2 separate regions of the Homo sapiens genome follow, and region 2 is linked to region 1. Evidence: fine-mapped expression QTL. Tissue or cell type: whole blood. Region 1 holds a variant in brackets; the other region holds the start of a gene. All regions are shown on one strand. Distances are between the middles of the regions.

Region 1 (6,339 bases):
GTTCAAGGAACCTAGTATGGCAAAATTCAAAGATCAACTATATATAGATACAAATAAATATAGTCTAACACAAATTAATGCATGAAATAATAAGAGGATGTTACAGCGACACATGGAAATTAGTAGCTTGACTTCATAAATTATCCTCTTAATATTATAGAAATTGGTGTCTGTCACTAAACTGGAGTTTCCCATTAAGTTTATTTTCTCCCTCCACAAGAAACTAGCTTATAATGGGAAAAAAATCTGCCTATTACAGCATTATTAAAAACTCAAAATTTACTGCTATAATAGAGAATATTTATTGTGCGGTTATTTTTTGTGTGCCAGACACTGAGCCACGTGTTTTACATCCAATATCTCACTACCCTACTGTGGGATGGGGATGGGTACTGTACTCCTTTTTTCTTTCAACTTTTTACTATAAAGATTTTCAAGGCCGGGTACAGTGGCTAAAGCCTGTAATCTCGGCACTTTGGGAGGCCGAGGCAGGTGGATCACCTGGGGTCGGGAGTTTGAGACCAGCCTGGCCAGCATGGTGAAACTAAAAATACACCTCATGGTGAAACTAAAAATACAAAAAATTAGCCGGGTGTGGTGGCGGGCACCTGTAATCCTAGCTACTCGGGAGGCTGAGGCAGGAAAATCGCTTGAACCTAGGAAGTGGAGGTTGCAGTGAGCTGAGATAACACCACTGCACTCCAGCCTGGGTGACAGAGTGAAGACTCCATCTCAAAAGAAAAAGAAAATTTTCAAACATACAGAGAAGTAGAAAGAATAAAACAACAAACACCCATGTCCACACCATGTAGATGAACAACTGTTGACATTTTGCTGTATTTACTTCTTGTGTGTGTACTTTTTTGTTTTGGCTGAACTATTTTAAAGTAAATTACAGATAGCATAAAACTTTAAAATCTAAATGTTTCAGCATAATTTCCAAATGGCATTCTTCTTCATAACCACAATACTGTCTTCCAAATGACATTCTCCTCATAACTACATTATCACATCTGACAAAATTAGTAATTCCTTAACATTCCAGTTCATATATAAATTTCCCCAACTGTCCTCAAAATGTCCTAGATAGCTTTTCTTTAATCCAGGAAACAAAGACCACACATTATGTTTGATTGTTTTGTCTTTCAAGTATTTTTTAATCTTAAGAAACTGGGCGGCCAAGCGCAGTGGTTCACGCCTGTAATCCCAGCACTTTGGGAGGCCAAGGCGGGCGGATCATGAGGTCAGGAGATCGAGACCATCCTGACTAACACGGTGAAACCTGTCTCTACTAAAAGTACAAAAAATTAGCCGGGCTTGGTGGTGGGTGCCTGTAGTCCGAGCTACTTGGGAGGCTGAGGCAGGAGAATGGCGTGAACCCAGGAGGCGGAGCGTGCAGTGAGCTGAGATCCCACCACTGTGCTCCAGCCTGGGCAACAGAGCGAGACTCCGTCTCAAAAAAAAAAAAGAAAAAAGAAAAAAGAAACTAGGCAAATTATCTTATGAAGATACTCTTTTTAAGCCTTCCTTCTAACCCCACATATCTAACCTGCATAGAGAGTAAGCAAAACAAGATACAACCAGTCCATTAGTGTTTGACTTTGAGTGCCAGGAAAATAAATAATTTGACATAGAATTTTAGCTGATAGAGATAGCTATGAACCAAATGTCCCCTTCTTGCTATTCTAATAAGCAGTGAAATAAGGTGAATGCACCAACTCCTATGTCAAAGCGTAAGAAGTGATGCCCTGAAAACGTCATTAATATCAGTTGTGGTTGTGTTTAACTGATTTTTAAATAGTCTAAATGTCACTAATGAAAGAAAACATAGATAGCTAGAAGAAAAGTTATCTGCAATGAATAAAAATAATACAATAGTAAGACTTTTGCTTATAGAGTATCCTACAACATTATTGCTTTACAGGATATTTCAATAGTAACAAAATACAGAAGCTGTGCATTTACACAAGTGTTATAAACTGTCAATGTGCTTTAAATAATTTCAAGAAACTTTATTTCAACTATGAAGTCTCTGAAAATTGGAAAGAATATTTACCCTTCACCAAGAAACTAAAGTTAAAGGGCATTTATTTTTTCTTTTCTTTTATTTTATTTTTTGAGACAGAGTCTCACTCTTTCACCCAGGCTGGAGTGCAGTGGCGGGATCTCAGCTCACTGCAAGCTCTGCCTCCCGGGTTCACGCCATTCTCCTGCCTCAGCCTCCCGAGTAGCTGGGACTACAGGCACCCGCCACCGCGCCCAGCTAATTTTTGTATTTTTTAGTAGAGACGGGGTTTCATCGTGTTAGCCAGGATGGTCTCGATCTCCTGACCTCGTGATGCACCCGCCTCGGCCTCCCAAAGTGCTGTGATTACAGGCGTGAGCCACCGCACCCAGCCCTAAAGGGCATTTATAACACATATGCTATGAGGTATTTGTGAGGGTGAGGGGGAACTCCAAGTCCAAATCAATAACCTTAAAATATTTTATTTCAAATATCTAGACCTGGCTGTCCAATATGGTAGCCATTAGTAGCCACTAGCCATATGTGGCTACTTAAATTTAATTAAAATAAAATAAAATTCACATCTCAGTTGCACTAGCCATATATTAAGTGCTCAGTAGCTACATCTGGCTGGTGGATACAGATAAGGCACAGATACAGAACATTCCCTGATCACAGAAAGCTCTACTGAACAGCATAGAGTTAGACTATTTCCTGTGTACACATTAACTCCCCAAAGAGAGAGGAAGCTCCTGAAATGTATGGAGTTCCTACTTGTTTTACATACAACATTGAGAACAGGTAGTTCTAAACAGGGAAGTGAAATGTCTTTTGGAGAAGATACAAAGCAGGGCATTCTCTGTGAAAGTATTCATCTATAAGAATAAAACAGTACACTAGGGATGGATGACTGATGCTCAGATGTGTCTGGGACTTTCCTACGCAGAAAAGAATCCAGAAGAGAGCATAATGCAGTGCATTGTGTCCCAAATTGTAGTTTGTATGTCTGACACGAGACGATTTTACATAGCACATGGACCAACATTTTTAGATACACCTTAGAATAACTATACTGTTATTGGAGCAGCCATCAAATGGCTAATTTCACAGATATTGTTTCTTAGGACAAGTTTGATTTTTATAAAAAAAAAA[AG/G]TAAGTAAAAACATAGAATAATACAGGTAGTACACAGGTATGGCAAAATTGTTAGGTAGTAAGTGAATGGGATGCTGGGAAACAGCATAATGCCAAGAGTCTGGGAGTCCTACAGATATGGATTCTAAACCTAATCCTGAGTAGTTCGGTAGCATTTAGTAGTATGCTACTTGCCTTTTGAGTAAGCTTGGACAAGGTTCTAGTTTTCCTGAAGTTACTGACACATTTTTAAAATACCTACTAACCCTACTGAGATATCCGACCATTGAGTGATAACATATAGTACGCATATTAGCACTCGATGAAGATAGATCTCCTTCTTTTTCCCCAAGGAAGAGATGAGAGAGTGTATCGATTCCCCCTGACAAAGGAGATGAAACTTTAGAAGAGAAACTCCTATTCACCTGTGACTTCGTTGATCTTCCTCCTCATAGGGAAGGCCAGAATGCTGAAATGACAAGGCTAGGGAAGAGAAAGAAGTTCTGAAAGACCAGGTCTGCATTAAAGAACCTAAATTAGCAACTTAGGTCCTTGCTATGGTAGAACCGGAACTTCTGGTCCTTTCTTACCTGACCATTCCCTCACGTTGGGTGTTTTCTCCTCTCACATTGACACTGCACAGACTGTTACCCACCCCAGATCCTAGGTTACATAACGCTCGCCTCTCTCCTGGGGCAAACTCTCTCCATGATTTCTTCGTTCCCCCGTACTCTAGATGCAATGACTTGATCCAATCCCTGCTCCCTGAAAGTAAAAGGGTCAGACATAACCAAGATCCCCAAGGAGCTCCGAGATCAGTTCCCTCTTCCAGCTCCATTCTCAACCCAGCAGCTCAAGCAAGAGACCTTATGACAGCGGCTCTTTCTCTCAGATGGGTTACTGCCTTCTGCAGAATTGCCGATGGCAACATCCTGACTTGTTCAGTGCGGCCCGGACTTGTGGGCTCCGCGGGCGTTTGCCTTCAGGGAAGATCTTTCCTCTGGCCCTAAAGCACTGTCTCCCAGGGAGTGCCATGCATGCCCTAAAGTGTACTGAGCACTTCCTACAGTTCTGGCAGAGCCAGGAATAAGAACAGGGAGCCGTCCACCTCGGGAAGGAGTCCCGGCCAACAGCACTGTGTTCCGAGGGCGAAGGTCCAGAACGGGAACCCGGCCTGTGAGGGGAGACGAGACGAGCCGCTTCCCGGGAGCCGCGCCCACCAAGGGAGGGAGACGCGGCGATCGCAGGGACAGAACCCTAAGCTCCGAAACGCAGCCTCCCAGCCCATTCTCCGGCCTTCCCCTAACCTCTGATACTCCTCCGAACCTCGGACTCCACCTGGTTTCGCCGCGGCCTCGGAGCTGCTCCCGGACGCTCCCGGCGAGGAGACTGAGGAAGCCGGGCAGAGCGCGCTGCCGGAGCGGACTACACAGTCGGCCCGCCACTCGCAAAAAAGCCGCCCAGAGCCCAGTCCCAGAGTGCCCCGCGGCTGCCCACGGACCGCCTTCCCAGAGGCCCTCGCGGCGCCGCCTACCTCGCGAGGCTGCGGCTGGGGCAGAAATCCGTCTCTGTGAGCGGAGGAGGGTGTGCTTATGCGAGAGCAGGTTTTGGGAGCTCACTAAAGCAGGTCAGTCCCTCTGTTTGCGCCGTTGTCTGTGGGTCGTTTAATTCCGGGCGCAGCTGATCTGTAACTTCCCTCACTGGCGAGGTCTCCCAGTTACCACCGGGACAATCCGAGCAAGGTCTGGGCCCCTCGCTGCCCCCGGTGAAGTGCCGCGTCTCCGCTTGGCCATCCGTGGATTCAGCATCCCCACCTTAGCACCTCCCGCCGGCTTTTCCATTGAGAGCAAAACCACGAACTCACTTTTGAGAGATGCTGGCGCTCCCCTCATCAATATTTCTTTTTTTTTTTCTGTTTGCTTACTTTTAACTAACCTTTTATTGATAAATATAACACAATTTTATTCTGAAATATAAACCAAAGATAAGTATAATTATGAACAGCCAAGTCATTAGAGCGAAAAAAGAATAGTGTCAGGTTCTTCACAGATACACTTCCTGAGAAAACCACTAGCCCGACTTTTATAACACTTTGCTTTTCTTATTTATATTTATTTATTTATTTATTTTACCAAAAGCAGATACTTGACTCTTTGCTTTTCTTTACGGTTTATCACGCATACTTGAAAACTGGATTTATGACAAAGGTGGCATCATACAGCCATGGAGAAAAGATGGTCTATTCAGTGAAGGTTCTATGACAATATGAAGGCCGGGCACGGTGGCTCACGCCTGTAATCCCAGCACTTTGGGAGGCTGAGGTGGGCGGATCACGAGGTTAAGAGATCGAGACCATCCTGGCCAACATGGTGAAACCCTGTCTCTACTAAAAAGTACAAAAATTAGCTGGGTGTGGTGGCACACACCTGTAGTCCCAGCTATTCAGGAGGCTGAAGCAGGAGAATCGCTTGAACCGGGAGGCGGAGGTTGCAGTGAGCGGAGATCACACCACTGCACTTCAGCCTGGGCAACAGAGGGAGACTCCGTCTCAAAAAAAAAAACAAAACAGAAAACAGGACCTCTATCTCTCATTTCATCACAAAAATCAATTGTAGCTGGATTAAGACCTAAATGTGAAATCCTAAACTATAAAGTCTTCAGAATATAATATAGGAAAATATCTTTGGACTTCAGAATAGGTAAATATTTTAAAACAAAAATAGAAAAACATTAAATTGGCCAGGCATGGTGGCTCATGCCTGTAATACCAACACTTTGGGAGGCCCAGGTAGGCGGATCACTTGAGGTCAGGAGTTGAGACCAGCCTGGCCAACATAGTGAAACCCCGTTTCTAGTAAAAATACAAAAAATTAGCCAAGTGTGGTGGCAGGTGCCTGTAATCTCAGCTACTTGGGAGGCTGAGGCAGGAGAATCACTTGAACCTGGGAGGCGGAGTTTGCAGTGAGCCGACAACAGGCCACTGCACTCCAGCCTGGGTGATAAAGTGAGACTCTGTCTCAAAAAAAAAAAGGAAAAAAAGAAAGAGAAAAAAGGAAAGAAAAAGAAAGAAAGAGAAAGAAAGAAAAGAAAAGAAAGAAAGAGAAACATTAAATTAAGACAACTACAGGCTGAGTGCAGTGGCTCACACACCTGTAATCCTAGAACTCTGGGAGGCCGAAGTGGGTGGATCCCTTGAGCTCAG
Region 2 (6,339 bases), 33 kb after region 1:
AAAGTCCCTGCCTGACACAGCTAGAACAATAAATACTGGCTGAGTGTAAAGCATTAAAGGTATGAATTAAAACACCACATGAGACACATGACTTCCTCCATCCTTCTATTTACTCCTAACCAGACCACTAAATAAGGTGTGATTGTTGGGCATCTCTCCCACAGTTCAAGGTAACATGAGAGTAATCTGGCATGTCATTCCTGCCTCTCAGCAGATGAAAAGAAAAAACTGATACTTGTGATAAATATTGGGTTGGGGCTAAAATGACTGGAACCTGTGCAGGAAAACCCTTAGAGGACTTAAGGAGGGCAGAAATCTTAGACCTGTCTGTGAATCACATTCCCACACTCAGGCACCACTGGTGGGGAACACCTTGTATTCTGTCTTCCTGCTACATGTAGTATTTGAAGATGGGAGATGAGAGCAGCTGCAAGCACGTGTCACAAGGAGTCCATGCTGGACCCCAAGATTTTCCCTCACAGCTGTCCCCTTCCCAAAAACCACAAGAATGAACCCCCAGAGACCTTCTCTCCCTCCTTCTCTCCACTTCAATGAAGTGTGTACCTATCTTTTCACACACAAATGAGATCCCCTTCTTCCCCCTCCATCAGTCCATTCTCACCTTCTCCTTCAAACATTTTAGTCACATCCTCCCACAGGGGCGCCCCCTCCACGGCCTTCTTTGGATGTTGCAGCTTCACCCAGGTGCTGGCCTCGGTAGGCAGGGTGATCAGGAGCTGCTGTGGCATGATGCCTGCCTTACTGGACTTGTCCACTTCTGGTGAGGAAATTGCCAGAAGCTCTTGATGAGACGCTTCACAGTTGTGGGGTGTTGCTCAGATTCCAATCACCTGCCCTCAGGACTCTGGTGTGTCCCTGCAGCACCAGGACCTGGGGGTTCCTAGAGACTGATGTGACTTTAACAATTCTGGAAAACAAACTCCCCTTTAAATCAAGCACTTTCTTTGGGAGGCAGCCAGTTAGTTAGGTTTGAGTTCATGTCTCCATACTCTTTAGAGGAGCAAAAGGGAAGGGAAGAGGGATCCAGAAGCACTTGTCTCCAGAACTCCAGAATCTGCAGAAATATATTTAAAACTGCAAAATACCCAAAAGAAAAATATCCATGCAGGAATAAATATAATACATGTTCCTGGACGTGGCTCTATCTCCAGTTCTATACATACATACACAAACATGCAAAGATGTACAAACATGCACAGACCATGCCTCATCTTCCCTCCTTGTAAGCTGCATGCATCTTCTGCCTGGACACAGACGGGGTTTAAGAGGGCAGGCTTTGAAATCAGACAGCCTGGCTTAGAAACCTGACACTTGCACTTAAAAGCTCTATGACACTTCAACTCTCAGCTTCAGTTTCTTAATCTATAAAATGGAGATAATAATTGTATTCTATAGAGTTGTAATGTTGGTTGAGACAATGCTAGGCATACAGTAAACCCTTAATGAACATTGTTATAAACCTGTTATCATATTGCTGAATCATAGTATTAATTTTTAAAGTTATTTTTAGAAACCATTAAATCTGAATTTAAAGTTCAAAATATCTCAACTGACAGAATAATGACATAGCTGCATTTTGGCATGAACAAGCAGTGACAGCCACGTCACCACCCACGCAGATGCCCAGCAGCTGGCAAGTTCCTTGGAACCACACTGGGAAGATGCATCTTGGTTTCAGAAATGTTAAAATTGGGGAAGAGGGTATGTCTTCAAATGGTGTAAATTTAGTATAATGAGGACTACTGCAGAATAGTAATAGGCAAATTTGGAAACAACTCAAATCCATCATCTCAACCAAACCCTAGAATCTGAGCAGGTGCTTTGACCGTGACCAGGTCCAAAGTATACGGCACTCCAAGAACAGTCGGAGCTACGTGGGAAGGGAGCTGGCCCAACTTTTTGAAGTTTGTTGGAGAAGGATGGGTATGTGACTTATAGGCGTGTGTGTGTGTGTGTGTGTGTGTGTGACTATATGCAGAGACAGGAGCTGCGTGTGTTCTAGGAATTGGAGCTTGTGAGAAATATCCCACCCCTGAATACATAAAAAGTCTTGTTACCAAAGTGCACGAATTTTCGAATCTTACTCGGGAAACAGTTAATGGCTGAGAAGCTTCATATCGAAGATGCCCCACCCTCACAGTGCTCCCAGACATGCCACCCTCGGACTCAAAGACTGCACACAGACTCCTACTCACCACATCGGCCTTGGACCCAGGTAGGACCAGAGACGGGGGCGTGGGAGTGCTCACTCTTGAGGTTTTCAGCGGTAAAGAGTGTCTCTTTAGAGACGGACTGAGTGGTAACAGATATTGTTCCCTCCCGGCCTTTTATAGACAGACCACATCTCCACTCAACGCAATCATTCTCCAAGAAGCGTCCAGCGTTGAGGTCGGCTTCCTTCGGAAGCCCGGAGGACCCTCGGCCTCCGGAGTGGACGAGGGTCTGCTCCACATTCCCATCAAGGGCCCGCCCAGGCGGGTGGGCTTTCCCAGCAGCGCCCCCAGGAGCGAGGCTTTGAGGGCCGGAATGGGAGGGATGCCCTGAGCCGGCGTCTTGCAGACCCCGGGGAGGATACACCTCCCTGGCTGCCGCTTTAACACGGGGCTGGCGGCTGCAGCCAAGCCCACCCAGCCTGGCCTCTTAGGCCGCAGCCGGGTGTCTCGCCTGGCCTCTGCCTCCGGCCGCGCCCTCCCGGCCGCTTGCACCGCCGGCCGCTCTCGCTGCAGCCCTGGCGGTCCCGGGGCCCACCCCACGCGGTCCCGCTGCAGCTGCCACAACCCGCGCGTCTTCCGGCGGGTTGTGAGCCCCGGCCGCCGGCTCCGCCCACAGGGGGCTGCCACGGAGCCCGCCCTCTCCCGGGAAGCAGCGCGCGCCCTCGAACCCGGAAGCTGGAAGCCGCCCGAGCGCGCCCCCGAGGGCCGTCCGGAACCGTGGGTAGCGGCCACCCACCCACGCCGCCCCCCGTTTCCTCACAGCGGTCCTTGGGAGACCTCCTTCAGCCTTTCCGGTGAAGCGCCTTCCCTGTCATTCATTCATTCACTCATTCATTCATTCATTCATTCAGTTATCTATTCTGAGTGTGTAAGATCTACCCCCACATTCTTATTGGCCCTGCGTATACAGCAGTTAACAAAACGCAGTTCCTGCTTTCTTGGAACTTAATTACATTGAAATTAATTGACAATAACAAATAGAAAAATAAATAGATAATACCCCAGGCGATTGTGAGGACCATGAAGAAAAGGAAAGCAGGGTGGGGAGATGATGGGCTAGGATATTTGTATCAACCCACTGTAGAAAACAACAATAAAATTTAAAAATAAAATTCTGGAATACGTGTGTGTGTGTGTGTGTGTGTATGTGTATATATATATACATATATATATAATATATAAATTTGTTTTTGAGACGGAGTTTCGCTCTTGTTGCCCAAGCTGGAGTGCAGTGGCGCGATGTTGGCTCACCGCAACCTCTGCCTCCCGGGTTCAAGTGATTCTCCTGCCTCAGCCTCCAGAGTAGCTGGGATTACAGGCACGCATCACCATGCCTGTAATTTTGTATTTTTAGTAGAGATGGGGTTTCTCCATGCCTGAGCGACAAGAGCAAAACTCCATCTCAAAAAAAAAAAAAAAAGAAGAAGAAGAAGAAGACCCTCCTTACAATAACTGGGACCCCAAAGGGCAACAGCCTCAGGGTGAGGATGAATTGAAAATGGAACAGCTTAAAAGGAATTTACAGACTGCATCAAATTGCCTGTCTCAGACATTATCTTGGTTTAAGACTGTCTCTGACTATGGTGTCACCAGATGCTTGGCAAAAGCAAATAGGTGGAGGAAAGCCTTATAATTGTAGGGCCGACATTTTTCCTACACATAAGTTTTCATAGACAATGTCAAATACAGAATTAAAGATAACCAGGTACACAAAGAAACTAGATTCTTAGTGAGAACCAGCAGAAACACAAACATTGGAAATAGACCTGCAGAAACAACTGCTTTTAGAATTATTTGATGCAAACCGCAAAATAATATTTTCTTGGGCTGGACACAGTGGTTTATGTCTATAATCCCAGCACTTTGGGAGGCCAAGGCAGGTGGATTGCTTGAGCTCGGGAGTTCAAGACCAGCCTGGGCAACATGGCAAAACCCTGTCTCTACAAAATATCAAAAATTAGCCAGGTATGGTGGCACAGCCCTGAAGTCCCAGCTCTTCAAGAGGCTGAGATGGGAGGATCGCTTGAGCCCAGCAGGTTGATGCTGCAGTAAGTCACGATCATACCACTGCCCTTCAGCCTGGGTGACAGAGCAAGACCCTGGCTTAAAACATATGTATATTTTCTTGCTTACCTATTAGAGTTTTTAGGAAAAAAAGTAAAATAAAATCATATTTTCTTTGCCTGAAGAAATAAAAAAGATAACTTGGACAATTTTGGCAGGTACCTAAAAACTATACAAAGTGATAGAGCAGATTTAAAAAAAGAAGTAAATAGACTTCTCTTCTATGATTGAGAAATACAGTAACTAAATTAAGAACTCAGTTAATGGCAGATTAGACACTGCTGAATGTAGAATAAATTGAAAGGAAGGTAGGTCACAAGAAATTATCTAGAATAAAGCATTGAGAAACAAAAAATGTACCCTACAGAAGACAGAGTAAGAGAGATAGAGAATACAGTAAGAGGATCGAACTAAGTTTAACGAGAGATAAAGCTAGGGCAGAGACAGTATTTGAAGAAATAAGGGCTGAATATTTTTAGTACCTATGAAAGGAACCAGGTCACAGATATAAGATGCCATATAACTCTCTAGTGGGATAAATAAAAGAAACCCTTTTATTTATCTAGTCAAAGAAATCTACACCTAGTAGAAGAAATCCACGCATTATAGTAAAACTACAAATTGTTATAGAACCAAACTGGGGTCCACTTGCCTGGTGCAGTAAAAACAGAACAAAGTAAAAAACATGACTAAATCTAAATGAACATAAATAATAGACTAAAAATCTCAATAATCCACAATAATCCATGAGGTTTAAAAAATAGATATAGCATATTGAGTATATGTATGTGTGTGTGTGTGTGTGTGTGTGTGTGTGTGTGTATTTTTTTTTTTTTTTGAGACAGATTCTCTCTCTGTTGCCCAGGATGGAGTGCAGTGGTGCCATCTCAGCTCACTGCAACCTCCGCCTCCTGTGTTCAAGCGATTCTCATGCCTCAGCCTCCTGAGTAGCTGAAATTACAGGTGAGTGACACCATGCCCAGCTAATTTTTGTGTTTTTAGTAGAGAAGGGTTTTGTCATGTTGGCCAGGCTGGTCTCAGACTCCTGGTCTCAAGTGATCTGCCTGCCTTGGGCTCCCAAAGTGCTGGGATTACAGGTGTGAGCCACTAGGCCCAGCCATTTTTTGGCTGGAATTTTTATACGTATTTTTAGCTGGAAGGGCATATTACTGAATATGAAGACCAAATATAAAATTATAGTAACTAAGACAATGAGGTAGCTATTGGTGTAAGAATAGATCAACTGAGCAATGAAGGGAATAGAGTCCAGATGCAGACATACACATAGACCACCACCTTGCATATGACAGGGGTGGGGAAAGGAAGGTGTTTTTAATACATTGGTGCTGGATCAATTGGATATTCATATTAACTCCTGGTTTACAACATATACAAAAATATTCCAAATGGATTGCAGATCTAAATATAAAATAATAAAACTTTTTAGAAGAAAATCAGAGAATGTTTTTACAACCTTAATATAGGCACAGATTTATTACATGCTATAGAAAGTACTAAACATAAAGAAAAAATGATACATTAACATAGATTAAAATTAAGAACTAGATTTTTCAGATACTGCTAGTGAGACTATACATTGGTACATACAACTGTTTTGGAAAAGTATTTGGCAGTATCTACTGAAGCTGAATAATATGACCCAGCAATCCTGCCCCTGGGTATATACTCAACAGAAATGCATAAATATGTTCCCTAAAAGACATATACTAGAATGTTCATAGCAGCCTGTCAGCAGTAGAATGGGTAAATAAATATCGGTATATTCACATAATCAAGTATACACAGCAATGAAAATAAACAACTACACACAATATTAATGAAGCTCACAAACATAGTTTTGAGCAGAAGAAGCCTGACATAGAAGAATACACACAGTGTGATTCCATTATTTAAAAGTACAAAAGCAGGTGAAATTAATCTATGGTGTTAGAAGTAACCCTTTTTAGGGTAGTGACTGGAAGTTGGGGGGCTCCGGTGGCTTCTGGAATGCTATAATTTCTGTTCTTAATCCACGAGGTGG

The links. PIP is the estimated chance that this variant, and not a neighbour inherited with it, causes the effect.
Region 2: ZFP69 starts here. The variant in region 1 is fine-mapped to the expression of ZFP69 in whole blood (INTERVAL, PIP 0.97).

The regions. Positions count from the first base shown.
Region 1 is chr1:40,507,014-40,513,352 of GRCh38, reverse strand. It overlaps EXO5 (exonuclease 5), which reads right to left and starts at 4,586. Exons shown (of 4, transcript NM_001346953.2): 1 at 4,445-4,586; 2 at 3,728-3,902; 3 at 3,563-3,620. It overlaps EXO5-DT (EXO5 divergent transcript), which reads left to right and starts at 4,658. Exons shown (of 2, transcript NR_187365.1): 1 at 4,658-4,764. RefSeq lists enhancers at 4,180-4,269, 4,300-4,549. The variant AG/G (reference allele first, on the strand shown) is at 3,158.
Region 2 is chr1:40,473,772-40,480,110 of GRCh38, reverse strand. ZFP69 (ZFP69 zinc finger protein) reads right to left here and starts at 2,821. Exons shown (of 6, transcript NM_001320179.2): 1 at 2,217-2,821; 2 at 623-1,075. The coding sequence starts at 749. RefSeq lists a silencer at 2,613-3,082.